Linked DNA regions of Homo sapiens: region 2 is linked to region 1. The links come from fine-mapping of genetic effects on gene expression. Tissue or cell type: pancreas. Region 1 holds a variant in brackets; the other region holds the start of a gene. All regions are shown on one strand. Distances are from middle to middle. Region 1 holds the start of GHRLOS (ghrelin opposite strand/antisense RNA). Region 2 holds the start of TATDN2 (TatD DNase domain containing 2).

Region 1 (9,079 bases):
ATTTCCTATCTGGCATTTCCATCTTGCCCCTGGTACACAAGTCACTGGCCTGGAACTCAGCCTTGATTCACTGTCCGTCTTCACGGATTAGCTGTGCTGTTATGTTGTCTGTGCTGCAGATTGGCCCATGTGGGAAGTCGGGGGGGACCTGATTTCCTGCTTGGAAGACTTGGGGGACTGCCGAGCATATCAAAGTGTTTATAGTCACCAAGTGAACTGCAGCACAACCATCTCCTCTCCAGCAAGCCCTGAAGTCAGTAGTGCCTGCAGGTGAAACCAACCAGCCCTGTGTTAGAGGAGGAAAAGCGGAGATGACATGGAAGTCTCCAAGCCTGTGCCATCCACCTGCCAAGGAAAAGCACAAGGTGCTATCTACTTTTCTCTCTAGGATTTAGATTATCATTTATGTGCTGTTGCACAGTGAAACCTCACCTGTGTGGGCGTGAAAGCTGATTGGCATTGTTTTTGATTCAGCTTTTTGGATGGCTAATTGTTTTCACTGTGCTGTGGGAATGCCTCTGTATTTTTTCCCCTCTTTGGCCATCTTTTTCTGAAAATAAAGTGATGGATCCTCTAGCCAACCCAGTCTCTCCGTGTTTGTATAGACTTACCTGAGTGATGCAGTGGTTTAGTCTGGTTGTTGGCCAGCATTGTAACCCAAGAATCCAGGTAGCTGGAGACTTTTTTTCTTTCTTTTTTTTTTTTTTTTGAGAAGGAGTCTTGCTCTTTTGCCCAGGCCAGACTGCAGTGGCACTATCTCGGCTCACTGCAAGCTCCGCCTCCTGGGTTCACGCCATTCTCATGCCTCAGCCTCCCAAGTAGCTGGGATTACAGGTGCCTGCCACCGTGCCCGGCTAATTTTTTGTATTTTTAGTAGAGACGGGGTTTCACCGTGTTAACCAAGATGGTCTCGATCTCCTGACCTCGTGATCCACCTGCCTCGGCCTCCCAAAGTGCTAGGATTACAGGCGTGAGCCACCGCGCCCGGCCAGCTGGAGACTTTCTTGAGTATCTATGTGGCTCTCTGTAAAATTAAACTGCATATAAGAATTCTTAAAGTTCGGCCGGGCATGGTGGCTCACTTCTGTAATCCCAGCACTTTGGGAGGCCAGGGCGGACAGATCACTTGAGGTTAGGAGTTCGAGACCAAGCTGGCCAACATGGTGAAACCCTATTTCTACTAAAAATACAAAAACTAGCTGGGTGGGGTGGCACGCGCCTGTAGTCCCAGCTATTCGGGAGGCTTAAGCTGAAGAATCACTTGAACCCGGGAGGTGGAGGTTGCAGTGAGCCAAGATCGCAGCACTGTACCCCAGCCTGGGTGACAGAGCGAGACTCTGTCTTTCCCCTCCCCCCGCCTCCCCCCAGAAAAGAATTCTTAAAGTTCTACAGCCTTAGAGTGTTAAGTAATTTTACTGTCTGGGAACTCAGATGCACTGCTTCTTTCTGACCTATGTAGGTACTTTCTTTTCTTTTTTTTTTGTTTTTTTTTTGTTTCCAGCTCAAGGCTGTAGGAGGAAGAAAAATCTAGTCCCTGGGGGTACTGATGAATCAGTTGGATGGTGGGCGTTGGACTGTGAATTCCTGATGCCTCTGGGTAAACTCTGGAGGAAATTCTGTTTCATTACTTGCACTCAGCCCTCCTATTTTGTACTAAGGTATTCTTGAATACAAGTGCACCGGCCAAAAAAGTAAACTTACGCATAAAAAGAAAGGCTCTCTTCCTTCCAAGAATGCTGAACACCTTTGAAGTCTCTGTTGCTGCCTCATCTTTTAGATACAATCATTGATTATGTATTTTTGGCATCGTCCTGAACTTTGTTTCATTTCCTTCACAGTTGAATGTGCAGTTGGCTTTGTCCACTCAGTGATGGTCCTTGTGACTGTTCTTGGCTTTTCTGTTGTTTTTCCATCTTTCTATAGGAAGCTTGAGACCGATACTCATCGTTTGCTTTCAGCACCTTAATTTTGCTTTGTTCATTTTTGTAAAGTAAGGGCAAATGGCCACCGGAATGTACAGTGATTAAAGAAGCAAACTCTGTCAAAGATGGTGATTAGTGGCCAGCCAGTCCCTCTCAGGATCACTGTATTAAAAAGTGCTCATTTGCCAGTGACATTTTTTTTTGGTTTTGGTTTTTTTTTTTTTTTTTTTTTTTGAGACTGAGTGTCACTCTGTCGCCCAGGCTGGAATGCAGTGGCCTGATCTCAGCTCACTGCAACCTCCACCTCCCAGGTTCAAGTGATTCTCGTGCCTCAGCCTTCTGAGTAGCTGGGACTACAGGCGCCCAATACCATGACTGGCTAATTTTTTTTTTTTTAAATTTTAAGTAGAGATGAGATTTTGCCATGTTGGCCTGTTTGGCCTTATACTCCTCATCTCAGGTGATCCACCTGCCTCGGCCCCCCAAATGCCAGTGACATTTGTAGGTGGATTCAGATTAAGGTGGGTAGCTTAGTTGAGGCGTCTCAACCCTTTTCTGTGCACTCTCTCAAGATGATTTCTGAACACACAACTATAAGTGCATGAGAACTTAAATACGTGTGCTCTTATGCTAATTATACACAAAGTAAAAGTTTTTTCACAAGGAGAATTTTTTTCTCCAGCAAATAGCTCGCTCACCCTAGGGGTACATACACCCCACTTTAGAGACCCTCAAGTTACAGTGGTATCATTAAACGATCCATAAAGGAGTGGGTTTAAGAAAGCTGATACAGGAACATGTTTGAAATAATACATTTTCTCAAGGGTGTCCTCCAACCATTTTCTTTGATAAATTATATTTCTGCCCATTGTTGACTTGAAATTGTCCTCACCCCTCTACCAAGTTCACCCAGTGTATTCTGAAGGAAAATGAATGAATATGGAAACCTCTCTCATCCTAGGCAGTAGAGCGAGGGAAGCTGCACTGGCTGAGAGGCTGTGGAACCGGATGAAAAAGCAGCCCCTGAGTCCTGTGGCGTTGGCTGTGAGTCGGCCACGTGCTTGCTGTGTGCTTTAGGAAAGTTACTTAATTTCTCTGAGCTTTAGTTTTCTCCCTCATAAGTAGGCTTGCTGTGAAAATGAAGTGAAATCACATTAATCTGCATGAGCATTTAACACGGTGCCTGGTGTACATCAGGGGTGTGACAGTGAGTGCTGGCTGCTGTAGTAATTGAATGCTTAGCTACGTGCCGGGCCCTTTGCCAGCTACAGCTCATGTGAGACCTCATGTTCAGTCTTGGCAGTAACCCAGCAAGGTAGGCATTTTACATGTGAGGAGCCTGAGAAATTCAGTCTTGGCCTGGATCACAGAGCTGGTATCCAAATTCAGGTCCGAGGCCAAAGCCCAGATCTTTGCACTACACCTTGTTGCCTGGCACAGGTGAGAGTGCCCAGCCCATAGTGGGTGCGCAATATCTGTTTCTATTTGAATGACCCAGGCAGGCGGTTAATAATGCTTGTGATTTCTTTGAGAGAGAAGTAAGTTCTTGTCTTTGGTGGGGGAAGCATCAGGTGACCAGCATTTGTCCAGAGCCTGGTACCCATCCTCTCCCAAGCCCAATCAGTGGTGCTTTCTCAAAAAGAAACCATCTCCTGACCACTTTGGCCATATTGGGCCTTTGCTCCTCTTCTGTAGCTATTGATAAGAGGGCTGTGGGCAGTTAGTGATAATCAAGGTCGTATCCCAACTAAGTGACAGAGCTGAGACAGTTAAGTTCCAGGACAAGTGTGTTGATCTCTGTACCCACTTGTGCCAGGTGCCTGGGGAGGTAGGGGCATGGCTGTCTGAGGGTGGAGGGGTGAGTAGGGGGCCTGCAGTGTGCTGTGACGCCTGGGAAGGGGATTCTAAGCCATTTCCCATCAGCCGTTTACTAAGTAGCCTGGGGATCTTGTTAAAATGCAGATCCTGATAGATTAGGGCTGGGGTGCTGCCCAAGATTCTACATTTCTAAGAGTCCCTGGATGACGGTGGCATTCACAGACCACAGCTTCTATGTGAGGGAGAGCAGTTGGGTTTCTGTCTGCCTGCCGCACCTGATCAGTAGTTAGTGCCTGCATGTGTGGCGGCCAGAATTTTACTTGGGGAGACGCTCGGCTCCTAGCACCCTCTGTGGTAGGGGTTTTCCAGAGTGTGGGCATTACCCCAACTGTCTCTGCAGACGGCTTCCTGCATGTTTCCCACAAGCGCTCAGATGGCTGAATTGGCAAGTCTGTGGTGCTGCTCTTTGGGGCCACCTCGTTCTTTGCCTTTCCCTCCCCTTAGCGATGTGTCCCATCCGTTGCCTACAGTCAAGTCAGTCCACATGTTTAGGCTAAGGTGGGCATGACCGAGTGGCCTTCCCCCGGGAAGACCAGTGTCGTAACTGGAATTAAGTTGTGGAAC[A/G]TAAGAGTCAAGGCTCGTGTCTGCTGTGAACTGGAGTTGAGGGAATGTTTGGGGATCCCACCTGGTATCAGTAAGGGAACCATGGCGACGGCCAGCCTTGCCCATGTGAGGCATTTGCTTTGTCAGGCCTTCTCAGTAGTGGAGAAGGGAGGAAGGAGAATGCAGCTCTTTCAGTGCTGTCTAGCAGTGCCCAAGAGCCGTGATTGGGCACCTCACTTAACGTCTAACTTCAGATTCACTCTTGGGCATTCCTGTCTTCCTCTCCAATCTTGAATGGATGTTGGCTTCGATAATGTCATCCTGAAGTTTCTTTGTCCACACAGCCCTGGCTGGTTGTTAATAAGCTGTTAATGCAGCCTTGCACTCAGGAAGCCCTGATGTTTAAAGGAACTGTGTCTTTGTTCTTCCTCTCTTCCCTCTTTCTCTTAGTCCCACTTTATCTCTTCTTTCTCTTCCTCTCCCTCCTCCTTTTCCCCTCTCCCTCCTACTCTCCCCCTTTCTCTCCTCCTTCTCTAAGAAACCCAGTCTTAATTCCACACAATGCATGCACATGCAGTAGCTTCTCTGCTTGAGTGAGCTGGTGTGATTAGGTTTTCTAAACATGCACATTGGCCTTGCTACTTGTCCTTTTATTCCCTTCCCACAGACCATAAACCAAGAATTATTTTTATTTGTATTATTTTGATTTTTTTAAAGTAAAATATTAACTTTTCCTCTTTGAAATAAATTCCCATTTGGAACATCAGCATACAGTTTGAACATTTATTCGCCTCCTGAGCTTGTACAACAGTCGTGGGAGTTGCTGCAGAAGCAAGCGAAAAGCCAGATGAGCGCTTCTAAACTTAGAGAGAGGTGAGTAAGGCTTGTGGGCGATCACTTGTCGGCTGGGGCCTCTGGAAAGCAAGAGGTTGAGTAAGAATGCTGGGTGCACCGTCCTGCTAGTGCTTTTCTTCCACGGTGGTGAGATTGGAGGTGGGATGTAATGGTGGGGGTTGTGGGGAAGCACTGGCCTTGGAGTCAGAGGGCGGCACTCAAGTGTGGACTGTTGTGCCCTGGGCAAGTCACCTCAAAGCTCTGAGTCTTGGTTTCCTCGTTTGCACAGCGGGGTGAATGCTACCCCTGCTGTTCCCCAGGGGTGACGGGTCACCGCCTTGGTGAGGACAGTGCTTTGCAGATGTGCAGGTGTTTCTGCCACCTCAATCAGTTGGGCGGTTTCTTTTTTTTCTTTTACAAGGTGAGGGGATTCAAAGCAAACCCTTTGCTTAACTCAGGAAGCTCTAATATTTGAAGGAACTGCTTAACAGGCTGCAGAACCTGTTCTGAGTGCTATTTTGGCACCAATTCCTTTTTGTTTGTGGAGTAAAGTTACGCAGTGAAGACGGTGTAACACCAAATAATTGTAGACTCTCACAATAGGTAAAATAGCTCCATTTTACAGTTAAGGAAGCTGAGGTTCAACTGAGGCCCCAAAGCTAGTTAATGTACTAGTTCTTAGAACATTCTTTGAACACAAAGACTATGATGAACTCCCTTCTGAGCCACTCACAAATACTAGCCAACCACTATCCTGCAGATCTTTGGGAAAGGGAAATTAGAAGTTCTTTTGGAGAGGCAGAGGTTGGGGAAAACTCATCACCCACAGAGTGAACTCCCATGTGGGGCTGCAAGGAAACCGAGCAAACCCAGTCCAGGCAGGACTCACCTTTGGCCTCTTCCCAGAGGATGTCCTGAAGAAACTTCCCCAGGGCCTGGCTGTGCTGCTGGTACTGAACCCCTGACAGCTTGATTCCAACATCAAAGGGGGCGTTGAACTAGGAGGCAGGGCAGGGAGGACCCAGGAGATGTCAGAGGTCATGCCCATCCCCATCTCAAAGGGGGCTCTGGGCTCTCTGCCTCTCTTCAGGAGTGGAGAGGGAGAATGGCCTTTGGGCCCCAGCAGGGACTGCTGAGTGACACCTCAGCCAGGTTCTCTTCCTTTCTCAGGACCACAGCTCACCTTCCCACTCACCATCTTTCAGACACTTACCTTGCACTCTCATGCCTCTCAGCCTTAGCCTCTAATGGGATTGCTGATAAAAGCTGTGGTGCCCCCTAGTGTGAGATTTTTTTTCTCCCTTGCAGTTTTGAAGACAAAAGGTTGAGTCACCAATGGCAGCATTTCAGGCCCTGGCAGGGGGTCTGCCCAGCATTCTCAGCACTGGCCTGCTGGCCTTCTATTCCTTCCCTGCTCCCAGCTCTTTCTCCTTTCTCTCTTGTCTGTTTCTTCTCCTTTTTCTCCTTCCCTAGGTATTTTTTCTCTCATATGCATAGACCTTTCTTTGATGCCTGGAAAATCAAAAGGAAGTTGATGTTTTCCTAGAAAGAGGCTCTGAGCCAAGTCCTTTCTGTGCTTCCATTTCTTCCCCTCTACAGGGAGAGCGCCTCATCTCTTCCATTTTCCAGGTATTCCTGAGATGATTTATTGGAGCTCAAAGCTTTGGGTAAGTGGGAAGGAGCTCTGCTGCAGCCACATGGCAGACTTTCCTTGAGAGCAGAGATTGTCTCTGCCAGTGGCTACCTCGGTGCCTGGCCATATTGGGCACTGACTTATCTGAGTCAGGGAAGGATCTTAGTGCTGGGTCATTTGGTCCTCACAGTAGAAGCCCAAGGAGTTGGAGGCCAAGGACTAGAATGCAGGACTTTTAAACCCACTTGGCCCTGAAAACTGCTTTAGTCCTATTGCCCTTCCTCTGTGTGAGGCCAGGCGTCCTCAGTGCCTCCCTGTGGGGTAGGCGCTACCACTGTGCCCATTTTACAGGTGAGGACAGAGGCGCAGAGAAGCTATTAACCAATAGCTATGCGTTCCCTTTTCGAAATCTCCCTCCCCTTAACTCCACCATGAAGGTGGACCCAGTGGGGAATGACATGATTGAATTTTTTTTTTTTTTTTTTTTTTTTTTTAAGGAGAGTTGGGGCCTTCCATTCCCTCCAGTAAATACTTGTTTTTCTTCCACCGCTGAGGCAAATGCGGGGTGGCTGATCACCTGGCAGACATCTTAGGAAACAGGAGCACCGGTCTGGGAAACTGCTGGCCTGGCCTAACACCTGGCGCTGTGGTGCAGGCAAGTGAGTGGTGACACAGTGCTGGCTGGTGGGGGGCAGCTTCCCTCCTGGCCTCAGTGGCCCATCTGTTCAATGGGAGTGGGACTTGGTCTCCAAAGTCTTCTACTCTGAAACTTGATTTTGGGAGGGAAACGTTTGGGGGGAGGTAGAGGGGCCTGAGATGAGAGAGGTGGGTGGGACACTCGGTTGTGAGGGGTTTGGTAGTGGGGCGCTCCAGGTCTCTGCAGCCACTCCTCTTCTGGCAGCCCCAACACCCCCCAGGCGTTTGACTTCTGGTTCCAGCCAAGGCAGTGTGGGTCACATGCTCCAAGGCTAGCTTTCACAGAAACTGCAAAGTTCCCGCTGTACCAGCCCCACCTTGCGTCGTCAGCCACCAAGACCTCTTTCTCATCTGGGTACTGGGCAGCTCCTCTGGCTGGGATGACCATGTGTGGAGCTAGCCGTCTCACCAGCAAAATATCCTGGTTTTGGCCTAAGGGTATGCAGCTCTTTCAGATGAGAATCTAGTGGATCCCACCGTGTAGAGGAAAGGTCTGAACACCGCCAGGTGCTGGTGAGGATGAAAGCGAGCAGGGGCTGGGGGAGCTTCCGACGGCTTTATTCCTCGACTGGAGAAGAGTATGGTAAACAGGCAGGCAGAGGCCAAGGCGGGCACATTTCACTCCTCTGGAAGGAAGAGGCCTCCCCTGGGCCACTGTGCGCTGTCTCTGTCCATCAGACCAGTGAGGAGGAAGAGGGCTTGGGGACTGGAGTCAGCCCTGACCTTGTGTCGCGTCCCTTCCACACACCGCTGTGGTACCTTGGGCAAGTGAGTTCACCTCTGAACTGTTCCTTGGCTCTAAAGTGGGAGTAATGCCAGCCCTGCTTACCTCACAGGTTGTCGTAGGGAGGAGGTGGGGCAGTTAGAGGTGAAGTTGGTATCCTCGGGCACAGCGTCTAATAGCTGCCATTATTAAGTGCTACCTTGGGGGAATCCTGCCTTAGCTGCGAAATGGTGTCACCAACCAAATATTTAGAAGAAACCATTCCCTGAACCACAGCCACAGGAAGGTTGCATAGAAAACCCCGTAAAATCCTTTACTCCCTCCTCCTCTCCATCCTTGGGTTGTCTTAACTTTCTCCTTGCCCCACGCACGATTTGTCAGAGCACATCACCCACACCTGCCCCCTCCTTGCCTCCAGGCGAGGTGAGTGGGTGCCGGAGCCTGGGCTGGCGCCAGCCCTCCCATCCAGGGTGCTGTTCGGAAGCACTCCACCCCACAGTCCAGGCCCTGGAAGCCCCTGAGTAAAACATGGTTTTCTGCAGAGCAACATCTTCAGTCTGGGCCTGCCGTTTATTTCTGGGTGTCTTTGTCTCTGGGCACTGTATTTTCTGTCCCCTTTGAGTCGCCTGGAGGCTCTGGCACCCTCTCTCCTCTGCCCAGGCTCCTTCCGTCCCTATTCTGTTGTAGCAAAGTTACTTCTTCTAGATATTTTTCTCTTAATGGGTAAAGACCTCACAGAGCCCAGGGCAGAGCTCAACTCCTGTGGTACTGGTTTTATAGTTCTGGGGAGCTTGTAGTTGGGACCCTGTTCACTGCCACCTCTCCCTGCCCTCCCTCTCCCCTGACCCC
Region 2 (15,586 bases), 37 kb before region 1:
TAGGATTATAGGTATGAGCCACCGCACCCGACCAGGAAGGCCCTTTCAATGCAGTGTCCCTGTCCCTTAGTAAACATGGTTCAATGAATGTCCCAGGCTCTGACCACTCCTGTTTCTCTTTTACTCCTCCTGCCATGGGGAGGGGAGAGGAAGAAGAAAGACAGGATGTGAGCATTTTTTTCACTCCACCCTCCCACCCCTCAACATCATAAATAGGAACAGGGAAACCCTCTCCTTTCTGGAAGGCCAGGGTAGGTTGCAGGGCTTCCTGCAAAGACAGAGGAGATGAAAATGCTCATTACAGCTGGGTGCAGTGGCTCATACCTGTAATCCTAGTACTTCGGGAGGACGAGGTGGGCTGATTGCTTGAGCCCAGGAGTATAAAGATCAGCCTGGGCAACATGGTGAAAACCTGTCTCTACGAAAGATGCAAAAATTAGCCAGGTGTGGCCAGCCAGGCATGGTGACTCACGCCTGTAATCCTAACACTTTGGGAGGCTGAGGCGGGCGGATCACGAGGTCAGGAGATCGAGACCATCCTGGCTAAGATGGTGAAACCCCGTCTCTACTAAAAATACAAAAAATTAGTTGGGCGTGGTGGTGGGCGCCTATAATCCCAGCTACTCAGGAGGCTAAGTCAGGAGAATTGCTTGAACCCAGGAGGCAGAGGTTGCAGTGAGCCGAGATTGAGCCACTGCACTCCAGCCTGGGCAACAGAGTGAGACTCCATCTCAACAAATGATAAATAAATAAATAAATAAATAAATGGGCTGGGTGCTGTGGCTCACAGGCCGGGCGTGGTGGCTCACGCCTGTCTGTAATCCTAGGACTTCGGGAGGCCGAGGCGGGTGGGTTGCCTGAGCTCAGGAGTTCAAGCCTAGTCTGGGCAACACGGTGAAACCCCTTCTCTACTAAAACACAAAAAAATTAACTGTGTGTGTCGTCCAGCCTGAGCAACAGAGTGAGACTCCATCTCAAAAAAAAAAAAAAAAAAAAAAAAAGCCAGGTGTGGTTGTGCACGCCTGTAGTCCCTGCTACTCCGGAGACTGAGGTGGGAGGATCACCTGAACCTGTGAGGTCAAGGTTGCCTTGAGCTGAAATTGTGCCACTGCACTCCAGCCTGGGCAACAAAGTGAGACCCTGTCTCGATAAAAAAAAAAGAAAAAAAAAAAAAGAAATGCTCATTACACTCAGGGCCTGATTCAGAAACCTGATTTAAGTGACTTTAAGAATTATAATAATAGTAACTTTCATTCAAGTCGCTCTTGTTTGCTTTCTGTTGAACATCAGTTACAGAAACTTCGTGGCAAATTGAGATCAATGAGGCCAAAAGGAAACTGATGGAGAATATTCTGCTCTACAAAGAGGAAAAAGTGGACAGCATTGAGCTCTTTGGCCCCTGATGACCGGAACACAGCTGAGGACCCTTGTCCTCAGTTGGAAAGATGAGCATCAGATCAAGAAAAAGGTCTGAGGCAGAATCCAAGATCTGCCAGGAAACACACAACAAAACATCTGCTGTCCTGGGTGGGAGGGAAACTTCATTTCACTGGAATGAGTTGGGAGAGAAAGGCCCTCAGCTTTTAGAGACACAAAAATCCATGAAGTCTCTTCCTTTCTGGGCTTTGTTAGTCAGAGCAGGGGATCAGAGGAGACTGAAGCAGAAACCCTGCACACGGGCCCAGGATGTGGCTGATTTTGTGGTTCCGGGGAGTATGTGATGATAATCACCCCCAGCAGATTCCATTACCTCAGCAGCTCTTGTTCCCCCGCCACTGGCAGTTCTGCAATGCCATAGCATTTTCCAGAGCTAAGATCTCTGGGTTGTATTTGCTGACAGCCTGCAAGCTTGCATGCTCTGAAAGATTTTTTTTAGTTTTTAATTTTTTTGTAGAGATGGGGTCTCGCTTTGTTGGCGCAATCCTCCCACCTCAGACTCCCAAAGTGCTGGAATTACAGTTGGGAGCCACTGTGCCTGGCCTGGAAGACTTTCAACTTGTGTCTCAGTGCAGTTCTTGACTCACCTCTCTGGGCCTCAGGTTCTACAAATGCCAGACACCTAGCGAAGAGCTCTGCAGGCTTTCCACTGCCTGTATTGGAAATCTTGCAATTCACATAATTATTCAGTCACTGCCTGGTACCTTTATCTTCCCATCCCACTAATGTTAGTGTTTTTTAATGGAGCTTTTATTCTGAGAATATGTGTTTGTCTGTTTGTTTGTTTTTTGAGACAGAGTCTCACTTTGTCACCCAGGCTGGAGTGCAGTGGCACGATCTCAGCTCACTGCAAGCTCTGCCTCTCAGGTTCAAGTGATTCTCCTGCCTCAGCCTCCTGAGTAGATGGGACTGTAGGCACCTGCCACTATGCCTGGCTAATTTTTGTGTTTTTAGTAGAGACAGGGTTTCACCATATTGGCCAGGCTGGTCTCGAACTACTGACCTCGTGATCTGCCCGCCTTGGCCTATCAAAGTGTTGGGATTACAGGCTTGAGCCACCGCACCCGGCCGAGAATATGTGTTGTTATTTATGACTGGATTATGAAGAATCAGGAGAATGCATTTCATGTCTGATTCTGCTGCTAATTAAGTCAATCATTTAATTTTTGGGACCTCAGTTTCTTTGTAAGTAAAATAACACCTGCTTGTTCTTCATCCCTGGGCTGTTGGGAGGAACAGATGAGACAGTGGCTATAGAAGCACTTGGAAAATGCACTTGTCCTGTTTTGTAAAATAAAAAGGTATTAAATGTGTATTTCTGCCATGTACCTAATGATTATTCAGTGCGTATATATCTGAAAAGTCATGTTGCAAATCTTTCTGTGAAACAGATGCTATTTTAAATTCACTGGGAGAAATATCCTATTTAAAGTAATCTATAGTAATTTCTTTTTATATAATAAAAATATATTTGTAAAGTCGACAGACAACTTGTAATTAGTTTTGTGTCTGGAAGAATTTGTTTAGAGAAGGCACTCTGTATCCTTGAGATGGGGTAGCAAAGAGCTAGGATCCTGGCTCTTACTGTTGACTGTTAATAGCTGCATGATCTTGGGCCCAGTTAGGGAGTTACTCTGAGGCTCTGTTTCCTCATCTGTACAATGGGAAAAAGAAAACGTACGCATCTTGTAGGGTTGTTGTTGGATGGGTCCTGCCTGGTGAAACATTTGGCAGCTCCCCAGTAAGGACAGCTTTGGCTTGATGTGTGATGTAGCTGAGCTGGGTCCCAGTCCAGGTGGACAGTGATCTATACAGACAGCCCTGTCTTCAGCTCTGGTGTCTGTGAGGATTCAAGGTGAATGTGCATTTTGTGCCCCAAATGGGACCTGGCCTGTTGCGAACACTTTACAATTATAAGCAGAGTGTTTCCAGGGCTGTTTGCGCAATAGAGGGCTGACACCAATAGGTTTGTGGTTATCCAGACATACTTACATTTCTAGACTAGGATTTCATATATTTTTGGAGAAGTCAGTAAATCCCCTTGGGACTTGGATGAAAGCTCTAGACCTTTGCTACATACAGACATACATACATATGCGTTCTGAGTCCATGAATTCCAGACCTTCATGGGCACCATGATGTCTTTTCATGGATCCCCCGTAGGGAAGCCCTGAATTATTTTTTTTTAGGTTAATAGAGGATTTAAAAATCTAAACAGTACAAAGGTTCCATGGTGAGAAGGCAGGCTTTTTCTCAATGGGATCTTAGTCTCCAGTTTCTTGTTCCCAAAGGCAACCACTGTCACTAGGTTGGAGTATCCTTCCAGAGGTGATGGAAAACAGAGGTGATGCTCAACTTAGTCATCAGGGAAATGCAAATCAAGACCTCTATGAGATGCCACTTCACATTCACTAGGATAGCTATAATCAAAAAGACAAAAACAAGTGTTGGCCATGATGTGGAGAAATTGGAGCCCACACACACTGTTGGTGGGAATTGAAAATGGTGAGCACTTTGGAAAACAGTTTGGCACTTCCTCAAAAGGTAAGAATTTCCATATGACCTAGCAATTCTACCCCTAGGTATCTACCCAAGAGAAATGAAAACATGTCCACACAAAAGCCTGCACACCAATGTTTATAACAGCCAAAAAATAGGAACAACCTAAATATCCATCAACTGATAAGTGGATACATGAAATGCGGTCTATTCATGCAATGGAATATTCAGCCATAGAAAAGAATTAAGTACTTGTGAAAAGTAAAGTAGAGGTTCCTCTTCAAAGACTTTCCTCCCCATCTAATTAGGAATAAATAGTAACTTCTCTTAGAAGCAAAATTTATTCAAAGACCTAACATTCTTAAATACCTGCTAGCCATAATAAATCAATGTACTTTATGTTCTTAACTCCCACAATTTAGCCTAAATATTTGCCCTGGCACGGTTATACTGGTGCAAGCAAGCATTAAGTCATAGCCTGTTCCTCTTCCTTATTTGAAAGTGTTTTTACCTTTCTCAGCATTCCACAAGTTACTTCCTCCTTCCTTTGTTCTCCTCTGCTTTTGCCTCTGAAAAAATTCTAAGTTGTTAGCCAATCAAGACAAATACAGAATGTGAAGTCCCGTTTCAGCCAATGGAAACTGGACCCAGAGGTAGGGTGGATACGTCAGGTTATAAATGACCCTGTCTCCTTTGTTGGGTGTACTCGTGGCAAAACTGCTGGCGAGTGTACCCTTTCTGCAGAAAGTGTAAAAATGGCCTTGCTGAGAAAATTATTTATGTTCAAGTGCTATTTCTTTATGGCACTGGGGAACAAGCATTTCAAACATACTGACACGTTACAACATGGATGAACCTTGAGATCATGGTAAGAAAAAGCAAGTCACATATTGTATGATTCCATTTTTAATTTTTTCAGAATAGGCAAATCTATCAAGACAAACTAGATTACAGTCTTGCTGAAATTACAGGAGTGAGCCACCAGGCCAGCTGGTCATACACCTGTTTTCTTTCTTCTTTTTTGTTTTGAGACAGAGTCTCCCTCTGTTGCCTAGGCTGGAGTGCAATGGCACGATATTGGCTCATTGCAACCTCTGCCTTCCAGATTCAAGCGATTCTACTGCCTCAGCCTCCTGAATAGCTGGGATTACAGGCACATGCCACCATGCCCTACTAATTTTTGTATTTCTTTTTAGTAGAGATGGGGTTTCACCATATTGTTGAGGCTGGTCTTGAACTCCTGACCTTGTGATCTGCCCACCTTGGCCTCCCAAATTGCTGGGATTACAGGCGTGAGCCACCATGCCTGCTGCTCATACACTTTAAATGAGTGAACTTTATGGTATATAAATTATATCTTAAAGCTGTTAGAAAGGAACACACAAAGTGGTTACCCTCAGGCATTTGAAAAAAGAAAGCCACATTTACCTTTGTATGCCACTCCTCTCTATTTAGCCACACATGTGTTTTGTTAATGCTTTTCTAGGTCCTTTGTTTTTTCATGTCTTTCTTGGCTATTGCTCCTCAACAGTAAGTTTAGATCACTTCATTCTTTTTGCCTTACATTCCATTGTATGGATATTCCTTAATGTATATAACCAGCTGATAGAGATTGAGGTTTTGTTTTCATTCTAGCTACTACAGACAATGCCACCTTCCAAGGAGATTGTATCAATTAACACGTTCATCAGGGATGTATGGGAGTGCATTTCCTCACATCCTCAGCCACAAGGTATATTATCCTGCTTTTTTTTTTTTTTTGAGATGGAGTCTTGCTCTGTTGCCCAGGCTGGAGTGCAGTAGCGTGATCTTGGTTCACTGCAAGCTCTGCCTCCCGGGTTCACACCATTCTCCTGCCTCAGCCTCCTGAGTAGCTGGGACTACAGGCATCTGCCACCAGGCCCGGCTAATTTTTGTTTTTTTTTTTGTATTTTTAGTAGAGATGGGGTTTCACCATGTTAGCCAGGATGGTCTCGATCTCCTGACCTCGTGATCCACCCACCTCGGCCTCCCAAGGTGCGGGGATTACAGGCGTGAGCCACCGCACCCGGCCCCTTACCTTGTTTTTTGATTATTGCCAATCTAACGAGTGGAAAATTATAATTTTATATGTACTTTTTAATTTAATTTAATTAATTAATTTTTTTTTTTTAGAGACGGAGTCTCTCACCCAGGCTGAAGTGCAGTGGCGCAATCTTGGCTCACTGCAAGCTCCACCTCCTGGGTTCACGCCATTCTCCTGCCTCAGCCTCCCGAGTAGCTGGGACTACAGGCGCCTGCCACCACGCCTGGCTAATTTTTGTATTTTTAGTAGAGGCGGGGTTTCACCGTATTAGCCAGGATGGTCTCGATCTCCTGACCTCGTGATCTGCCCGCCTTGGCCTCCCAAAGTGCTGGGATCACAGGCGTGAGCCACCACACCTGGCCTTACATGTACTTTTTTAATGGTTGAGGTGGAGCCATCTTTCTTATATTTAGGAGCGTTTCATGATTTGTTTTTGTTCATTGCTTCCTTTGCCTTTTTTTTTTTTTTTCCCTGAGACAGGGGTCTCACTTTGTCTCCCTGGCTGGAGTGCAGTGGCAGTAATCTTGGCTCACTGGACCCTCGACTTCCCAGGCTCAAGGGATCCTCCCACCTCAGCCTCCTGAGTAGCTGGGACTACAGGCGCCCACCACCACACCAGGCTAATTTTTGTGTTTCACTAGAGACAGGATTTCACCATGTTGCCCACGCTGGTCTCGAACTCTTTGCCTCAAGAGATCCACCCACCTCGGCCTCCCAAAGTGCTGGGATTACAGACGTGTGCCACTGGACCCAGCCTCCTTTGCCAGTCTTAATACTAAGTTATTTTATTATTTTGGGAGAATTGCTACATCGAATATCAGCCCTTTGTCATATGTTTCGAGTATTTTTCTGAATTTGTACCTTGTCTTTGATTTTTTTTCTTTTTTGAGACAGGGTCTTGCTCTGTCCTCCAGGCTGGAGTGCAGTGGCGGGATCACAGCTCACTGCAGCCTCGACCTCCCGGCCTCAAGTGATCCTCCCACCTCAGCCTGAGTAGCTGGCATCACGCCCAGCTAATTTTATTTTTTGTAGAGATGGGGGTCGCACCATGCTGGCCAGGCTGGTCTCTAACTCCCGAGCTCAAGCCATCCTCCCGCCTCGGTCTTCCAAAGTGCTGAGATTGCAGGCGTGAGACACCGTGCCCAGCCGTCTTTAATATTTTTCACCAGGCGGATAGTTCACATTTTTGTGTAGTCTTTTTTTTTTTTTTTTTGGTGCCTTCTAATTCTAATTCTTCCCATTTCTGGGTGTGTACTTAGTCTCTCTGAGCCACAGTTTTCTGCTCTATAAAGTGGGGTGATAATGCTCAGTACACGGTTTGCTTTGGCTCGATGAGAAATCCAGGTCTGAAAGCTTCAGGTACAGCGGCCGGCGCTGAGGAAAACAGCGTTAAGTGAGGCGCGTCAGCGGACACCACCTGCCTGCACATCTGGCTGGCCTCAACTTCCCGCTGTTCGAGCCCACGTGAGTGGCTCCGCCCCATCTGGCTTCTGACCAATGGACGAGCTTCCTAAGGCGTACCGTCCCGACTCCAAGGCGCCTGGCTTTGAGGCGGGCTGCGTCTTGCTCGGAGTCCCGCCCCTTGCCGGGTCGAGCAATGGGCGCCTTCCGTTTGGCGCAGGCCCCGCCCCTGTCGCTCTCCGGCCTGCGGGCCGCAGGGCTCGTTCCGGAGGGCGGGCGCCACGGAGGCCGGAGTGGTCGCAGTTCGGGCGGAGGCCGGGCCAGGCGGGGCTGTAGGGCTGGGGCAGGCGGCGGGCTGCCCGGCGGGACAGCTGCGGCAGCCGGCGGGGGGCGTCCTGAGTTGGCGGTCGAGGGCGCTGCCAGCTCCCGAGGGGCCGCTCGGGCCCCTTCCGGCCCGGGTCTGGTTGGGCCGCAGGAGCAGGGCGGGCTGCGGCGCCCGGGTCTGGCCCTGGCCTACGGGCTAAGCGCCCGGCCCCGGGGCCGCGGATCCGGCAGCCATGTGTGGATCTTGAAGCGCCATGTGGTCTTCTGAAGCGCTTGACAGTTCTAAAGGGCTTTATATTGCAAACTGATCAAAGCGCTTCGTAGCCCCGGAAGCGCTTAGGCATCTCCGAAGTAGCGCTGGGCAAAGTGAAGGCTTCCTGATCTCAGAAGCACGTTGTGGGCTTGGAAACCGACGGCAGCCTTTAGTCAATTTTGGATCGCTTTGACTTCTCCAACACGGTTTGGCATCTCTGAAACCTTGAGAACTGTGATGGGCAGTGGAAAGAAGAGGGAAAGGTCAGTGAGGCTAGCCCCTGGCTCTGCCCTTATGTCTTGCCGTCCTCCTGGGCCCGGGGTGGCGGGAATCTGAGGTGGGGTCGCCAGGAAGGGTGGTGTTGGAATCCAGGCCCCCTGTACCTTGCAGGTGCCCATGGCGTCCGAGCGGGGCAAGGTCAAGCACAACTGGAGCAGCACGTCGGAAGGGTGTCCCCGCAAGCGCAGCTGCCTCCGGGAGCCCTGTGATGTGGCCCCCTCCAGCCGGCCAGCTCAGAGGTCTGCGTCGCGTTCTGGAGGGCCCAGCAGCCCCAAGCGCCTGAAAGCCCAGAAGGAGGACGATGTGGCTTGCTCGCGGAGGTTATCCTGGGGCTCATCCCGCCGCAGAAATAACTCCTCCTCCTCCTTCTCCCCACATTTCTTGGGCCCTGGTGTGGGCGGGGCCGCCTCCAAAGGCTGCCTGATTCGGAACACTCGGGGGTTCCTGTCTTCAGGGGGATCCCCTCTGCGTCCTGCCAACGCCTCTTTGGAAGAAATGGCTTCTCTAGAGGAGGAAGCCTGCAGCCTTAAGGTAGGTGGCTGCCACGCTTTGCAATCGGTGAAGCCCCTTCCACATGGCTTGAGAGGTTGGGGATGGGAATTTTGGTGGAAGGAGACTACAAAACATTACATCCTTGAAGGTCTGGAAGGTCTTTCTAGAAGTCCACTCCCCCCAAACTCGAAGACCTAGCAGTCTTCCAGGCGCGTGGCCTGAAGTTAAGTAGAGAGGTAATTTTCAAACTCGGCAGCACTTTGGAACTACTTGGAAAGCTTTAAAATACTTGGGCCTGCCTCCTACTCCAGAGAAACTGATTTATTGGGCTGAGGTGTGGTCTGGGCTTCCAGATTTTTCAGTGCTCCCCAGGTTATTGTAAACGTGCAGCCCCGTTGGAGAATCACTGCAGTAGAAGGTGGATTATGTGCTCAAGAGAAGAATGTATTTATTTTAGTTGTCAGTTTAAAGAATTGTGTGCCCTTGTACTTTGAACCACTCTGAATCACAGAACCAAGAATTGCGGTTCTTGGTGTAGCTTTTCTCCAAAGTCATAGTTTCCAGCATGTTGGGGTTTTGCTTGGTGGTGCTAGTTTTTTTTTTTTTTCTTTTTTTTTTGGAGGTTAAATTGTTAATTCCCTAATGGAAACATGCAAGAGGGTTTCATAAGTACTTTGAGCAGACCAAGGAGTGCTTCACAGAGAAGATACATTTCGCTCATCTACTCAATCAAGGCTTTGAACAAATATGTGTTGAGGGTTTAGTTTGTGCCAGGCAATGTTCTAGGTGTTTGGGATTCTTTACTAACAAAACAGATCACTTTCCCCTTAGAGTTTGCATCCTAGATTTTGAAGGTCTGAGTCTTAAGAAGTGAGAAGTTCTGCCTGTGGAGGAGTGGAGAAACAGTCTTATTTGGGATCAGATGGGCTGCCTCTAGAGAAAATTACTTTACAAAAGCAATTAAAACAGGCCCTAAGGAATATGTGTTTGTTTTTAAGCCTAGCCTTGGTGGTTTCTTTTGTGTAGCTGAGAAAGGAGGCTGTATTTGACTGTTTGTCTTGGGGACTCATAGGCTAAGTGCCCCTGGTTTTTTCAATGTGGACCTCACTGTCTGAACTCTTGTGTGGGCACGTGGATTTTTTCTTTTTAAATTCACAAATAACAGTGAGTTGAAAAGCCCTGTCTCTAGCGTAGGAATGCTGAATTTGTCTCAAATCAGGTAAGTATGGGACTTTGCTCATACAAGTTAATCTTGCCATTAATCCTTGATACAATTTCAGTAGACTTGGGTACAGCATAAAATAATACCAGTTGATTCAATTTAGCTTCACTGACAATTTGTAGATAGAGTGAAACCTGTTACTGGGAGAGGCAGGAAATTTACTTTACATAGTCTTTCAGGTGTGCTGAATCCCTGGCTGTCCTAAAGACCTGGAACTCAGGTTTGAGGGTGTGGTCTCTAATCTGGGTGGGTCTAATTGTAGGTGGACCCACCTTTCTCTCATTAAGGCTAAAGGGGCCTTGTTTTGCAAGAACCCAATTTAATGGTTTCAGTAGAAGCACTTGAGGGTTATTGTGGGCCACGCACTGTTGGGTCTGGGAGTGATGAGCTTCTAGGGAGCAGTCTGGTGGGAGGGCTGGAGGAGTGGTCGCATGACTGCCCACAATGTGGTATGATGGAGTAGTGAGCCCAGAATGGAGGCTGGAGAGCGAGGTAGGGGGTGGATTGCAGCAAGGTTTTAGTAGCCAAGGGAATTTGGATTTTATCCTAAGGACAATGGATTTTATTCTAAGGGACAATTCCCTTAGAATTGTATTCTCTTTTTTTGAGACAGATTCTTACTGTGTCACCCAAGGTAGACTGCAGTGGCATGATCTCTGCTCACTGCAGCCTCCACCTCCTGGGTTCAAACAATTCTCCTGCCTCAGCCTCCCAAGTAGCTAGGACTACAGGTGTGCGCTACCGTGCCCAGCTGATCTTTGTATTTTTAGTGGAGATGGGGTTTCGCCTTGTTGGCCAGGCTGGTCTCTAACTCCTGACTGCAAGTGATCTGACCGCCTCAGCCTCCCAAAGTGCTGGGATTACAGGTGTGAGCCACCATGCCCGGCCAATTGTATTCTTATTTTAAAAAAATTATTTTATTTTTTTGAAACGATTTCCCAGGCTGAAGTGCAGTGGCGCAATCATGTCTCACTGTAGCCTCAAACTCCTGGGGTCAAGCAATCTTCTTAAATAGGTGAGAATATGGGCATGTGCCACCACACCCTGCAGATTAAAAATTTTTTTTTTGGGCTGGGCGTGGTGGCTCACGCCTGTAATCCCAGCACTTTGGGAGGCCGAGGTGGGCAGATCACGAGGTCAGGAGATTGAGACTACCCTGGCTAACACGGTGAAACCCTTTCTCTACTAAAAATACAAAAAGTTAGCCGGGCATGGTGGCGGGTGCCTGTAGTCCCAGCCACTTGGGAGGCTGAGGCAGGAGAATGGCATGAACCCAGGAGGCAGAGCTTGCAGTGAACCGAGATCAAGGCACTGCACTCCAGCCTGGGCAACAGAGTGAGACTCAGTCTCAAAAAAAAAAAAAAAAAAAAATTTTTTTTTTTGTAGAGATGAAGATCTCACTGTGTTGCCCAGGCTGGTCTCAAACTCCTGGGCTCAAGCTGTCCTCTTGCCTTGTCCTCCCAAAGCGCTGGGATTAGAGGCATGAGCCACTGTGCCAGCTGGATTGTCTTCTAAGCAATTAGAGAATTTATACAGGGCTCTACACAGAAAAGGAAATTGCATTGTAGAAAGATCACTCTTGTCGAGTGAGGGTTTTTATATTACCCTGATTGTCCATCTCTAGGACTGCTGAAGTCTCTTCCTGGAGTATATGTTTGTCAGTTTAAAAACCAAGTGTACAGTACTTGACTCATCTTGATGAATTACAAAACACCTCTTACCTTCCACCTTCATCTGTACCTCTTCCTCCCTTGCTCTGTGGTCATCTGTGAACTTATCTGTCCTGGTCCTAAGTCCTTCAGCAAGCACAGCCGAGGGGTACTCACAAAAATGGCATGTTCATCCTCAGGTCCTTCTAGAGTCCTCTCACTGCTCTCCTGTGTCTGCTCTGTAAACTTTTTTTTTTTGTTTGAGACAGGGTCTTGCTCTGTCACCCAGGCTGGAGTGCACTGGCATGATCATAGCTCACTGCATCTCAACCTCCTGGGCTCAAGCGATCCTCCTGCCTCAGCCTCCCAAGTAGGTGGAACTCAGGCGTGTGCCAACCTGCCTGGCTAATTTTTTTTTTTTTTTTTTTGAGACAGAATCTTGCTCTGTCACCCAGGCTGGAGTGCAGTGGTGCAATCTCGGCTCACTGCAAGCTCCGCCTCCCGGGTTCACGCCATTCTCCTTCCTCAGCCTCCCCAGCAGCTGGGACTACAGGTGCACGCCACCATGTCCGGCTAATTTTTTTGTATTTTTAGTAGAGATGGGGTTTCACCATGTTAGCCAGGATGGTCTCGATCTCTTGACCTCGTGATCCGCCTGCATAGGCCTCCCAAAGTGCTGGGATTACAGGCGTGAACCACCGCGCCTGGCCTGCCTGGCTAATTTTTTGTGTTTTGTAAAGACAAGAGTCTCCCTATGTTGACCAGGCTGGTCTCAATCTCCTGGGGTCAGGCAGTCCTCCCACCTTGGCCTCCCAAAGTGCTGGGATCACAGGCATGAGCTACTGTGCCTGGCCTTGCTCTGTAAACTTTGAGGGTTACACAGTTGACTTTGTTCCCTTCTCCCACCAGCCTTTAACACATCTTTCTCTGTGCCAGGTCACAGAATATTCTGAGGGGAAGGTGTTAGACTGGTCATTTTAGAATCGGTAGAGATCCCTGCTGGCTGACCTCACATCGTTCCCTTCTTACCTCCAGGACAGTTGGAGATGTTTCATGTTAGCTGATGATCTTCATTTACTCTTCACAGAGGAGACTAACTGTGTGACGAGCACCTTCATGTAGTAAAGATTATTTTTACTATGACATCTAAATGTCTACATTCAATTTAGAGTTGAAAGAATGGAAGGGAAAATTTGAGCATGTATGATAAGGCTTGGTCAACTATGATTCTCGATGTTTGATCTATAGACTATCACATAATCCCAAAAGTGTCGTGAAGTAGGTGGTATTATCTCCACATATCCATTAGTAAATACCTTCATATCAATTAACAAATATTTAAGCACCTACTCTGTGTAGGCACTGGGCAGATGAGATTCAGAAAGGTTAAATAAGCTGACCAAGGCCATGCAGCTGGTAAATGGCCGAGCTGTGGGGTAATATCAGATTAGTCCAACTTCAAAGCCAGTGTTCTCTGCACTGCTGCCTCTGGGAGCACCTGCTCTGTTCTAGCCTGGCATCAGATGTAGGGGTGGCAAGACGAAGGTGCCAGGGTCCCTCCCTTGCGGAGCTCTCTGCAGGGTGAGTTAGCCCAGGCACAGTAAAGCACTGGGTATTGAGGCTCTTGAGTGATAGAGCTTTTGCACATCCCCTTTCCTGCATCTCCACTTGGCACATGTCTAGTGCACACGTGGAACACCAGGCTTGGGGCTGTTGTTGCCAAGGACAATCGGGCCATGCTTCACAGACTGAGAAGTCACTCACCACGGGGCAGTGAGTGGAGAGCTGTAACAGGGATGGGTTTGGAGTACCCAAGGGTCAGGGGAATGAGCGACTGACCATCAGGAAGGTCCTCACAGAAGAGGTGACATCTGAGTCTTACTGATGGACAAGGAGGGGGACAGGACATTTCGGGCATAGGGAGCAATACATGCCCAAAATGTCAGGAAATGCTGCTTGTCTGGAGTGCTTGGGGCACTGCTGGCCCTCCCTTCTCTCATCCGTGCTCTCCTGCGTTCCCTGGACACTTGCGTGTTTGGAGGAAGGCAGGAGATGAGGCTAGACAGGAAGGCTGGGGCCAGTCTGTGAAGGGTTCCTGATGAGCTCAGGGGTAGGGATTATTCTGTAGGCAAATGTGGAGCCCTGGAAGGGTTCTAAACTAAGGCTGAAGTGGTGGGGTTTGCATTTTAGAGCTCCTCTGGCACGCTGCAGAGAAAGGGTAGGAGGGAGAAGACAGGGAGCTGGTGAGGAGCTGTTGAAATCCTTCAGGCTACTGGTGATAGGGCTGGAGCAACATCTCCACTTATCTTTCCTTCTTTCCTTTGGAGATGCACAGTTCACCAAGCAGTGCTTCCAGGAAGAACGAACTCTCCCCTTTATGAAGTCAGGTGGTTTGTCTCTTACCTTCTGCCCATGGTCTACCTACTTCTTACCTTTAGAGCCAACTGTCACCTGCTGAAACTCATCCTCGGTGTCGTTGATCCATCTTAGGTCCTCCAGCCTAGGAGAGTGTTTCTCACTTTCTCTCTTTTTTTCCCCCTTCCCCCTTCCTCCTTCCCACTTCCCACTCCCCCTCCCCCTCCCCCTCCCTCCTTTCCTGTCTGTCACCCAGGCTGAAGTGCAGTGGTGCAATTGGCTCACTGCATCCTTGACCTCCTGGCTCAGGTGATCTTCCTGCCTCAGCCTCCCAAGTAGCTGGGACTACAGGCGTGCACCACCATGCCCAGCTAATTTTTCTGTATTTTTTGTAGAGAGGGGTTTTTTTGCCATGTTGCCCAGGCTGGTGTTGAACTTGTGGGCTCGAGTGATCTGCCTGCCTCAGCCTCCCAAAGTTCTGAGATTATAGGCAGGAGCCACCATGCCCAGCCAACAGTGTTTCTCACTTTCATATTTCATTACTCCTTTCCCTTGGCTTCCAGGATGTTAGGGAGAACTTGAGTTTGAATCCCGGTTCTGCCACTTACAAGCCATGTAGCAGTTTCACTTTCTGTAAAAGAAGTATGACGGCTGTAGCACTTCTGTAAATTGTAAATCTGTATGAAAATATAAGGTATATTATTATACTCCTAATTTTTTTTTTTCTCCCCCAACTCCAGTCTTGGTCTTCACAACCAGAGGTGGCAAAACTGCTGGTCTGTGGACTGGATGTAGCCTGCTAGGTCCTTAACAGTATTTACATTTTGAGACAATTCACATTAAGAATTTATGACTCCAGGCTGGGTGCGGTGGCTCATGCCTGTAATCCCAGCACTTTGGGAGGCTCAGGTGGGCTGATCACTTGAGGCTGGGAGTTTAAAACCAGCTTGGCCAACATGGAGAAACCTCGTCTCTACCAAAAATACGAAATGTAGCTGGGTGTGGTAGCACATGCCTGTAATCCCAACTACTCAGGAGGCTGAGGCAGGAGAATCACTTGAACCTGAGAGGCGGAGGTTGTAAGTGAGCTGAGATGGCGCCACTGTACTCCGGCCTGGGCGACAGAGTGAGACTGTCTCAGAAAATAGAATTTATGACTCCAGTCTAAGTCCCTACCTTGAACTGAAGAATTGAATGACATCACCTCCCCATTTTATGTCCTCTTTTCTTATTTTGTTTTTCTCCTTGGCAGTTATCACTCTCTAACATACATATTTCACTTGTCTTACCTTTCTCCTGGTTTTCCCTTCCCTTACCAGCTAAAATGTGAGCTCCAGGAGGCAGACGTTCTTGTGTGTTATTACTATTATTTTTTTTTTTGAGACAGCGTCTCCAAAAGTTTGGAGCGTCTCCACAGGCTGGAGTGCAGTGGCACAAGCTCGGCTTACTGTGACCTTGACCTTCCACACTCAAGCAATCCTTCTGTCTCAGCTCCTGGAGTAGCTGGGACTACAGGTGTGGGTCACTGCACCCAGCTAATTTTTGTATTTTTCTTGTACAGATGGGGTCTTGCTATGTTGCCCAGACTGGTCTTGAACTCCTAGGCTCAA

Evidence for each region.
Region 2: it holds the start of TATDN2, and the variant in region 1 is fine-mapped to the expression of TATDN2 in pancreas (GTEx, PIP above 0.99).

The regions. Positions count from the first base shown.
Region 1 is chr3:10,280,638-10,289,716 of GRCh38, forward strand. It overlaps GHRL (ghrelin and obestatin prepropeptide), which reads right to left. Exons shown (of 6, transcript NM_016362.5): 5 at 6,067-6,175; 6 at 5,029-5,257. The coding sequence ends at 5,238. GHRLOS (ghrelin opposite strand/antisense RNA) reads left to right here and starts at 315. Exons shown (of 6, transcript NR_073568.1): 1 at 315-365; 2 at 2,884-2,966; 3 at 5,111-5,216; 4 at 6,777-6,844; 5 at 7,365-7,465. LINC00852 (long intergenic non-protein coding RNA 852) reads left to right here and starts at 3,782. Exons shown (of 1, transcript NR_026829.1): 1 at 3,782-5,109. It overlaps TATDN2 (TatD DNase domain containing 2), which reads left to right. Exons shown (of 8, transcript NM_014760.4): 8 at 1-581. RefSeq lists enhancers at 6,348-6,642, 7,508-8,123. The variant A/G (reference allele first, on the strand shown) is at 4,365.
Region 2 is chr3:10,240,826-10,256,411 of GRCh38, forward strand. It overlaps TATDN2 (TatD DNase domain containing 2), which reads left to right and starts at 7,634. Exons shown (of 8, transcript NM_014760.4): 1 at 7,634-8,242; 2 at 8,370-8,789. The coding sequence starts at 8,376. IRAK2 (interleukin 1 receptor associated kinase 2) reads left to right here. Exons shown (of 13, transcript NM_001570.4): 13 at 1,291-2,920. The coding sequence ends at 1,403. RefSeq lists silencers at 1,731-1,800, 7,520-7,949 and an enhancer at 8,202-9,070.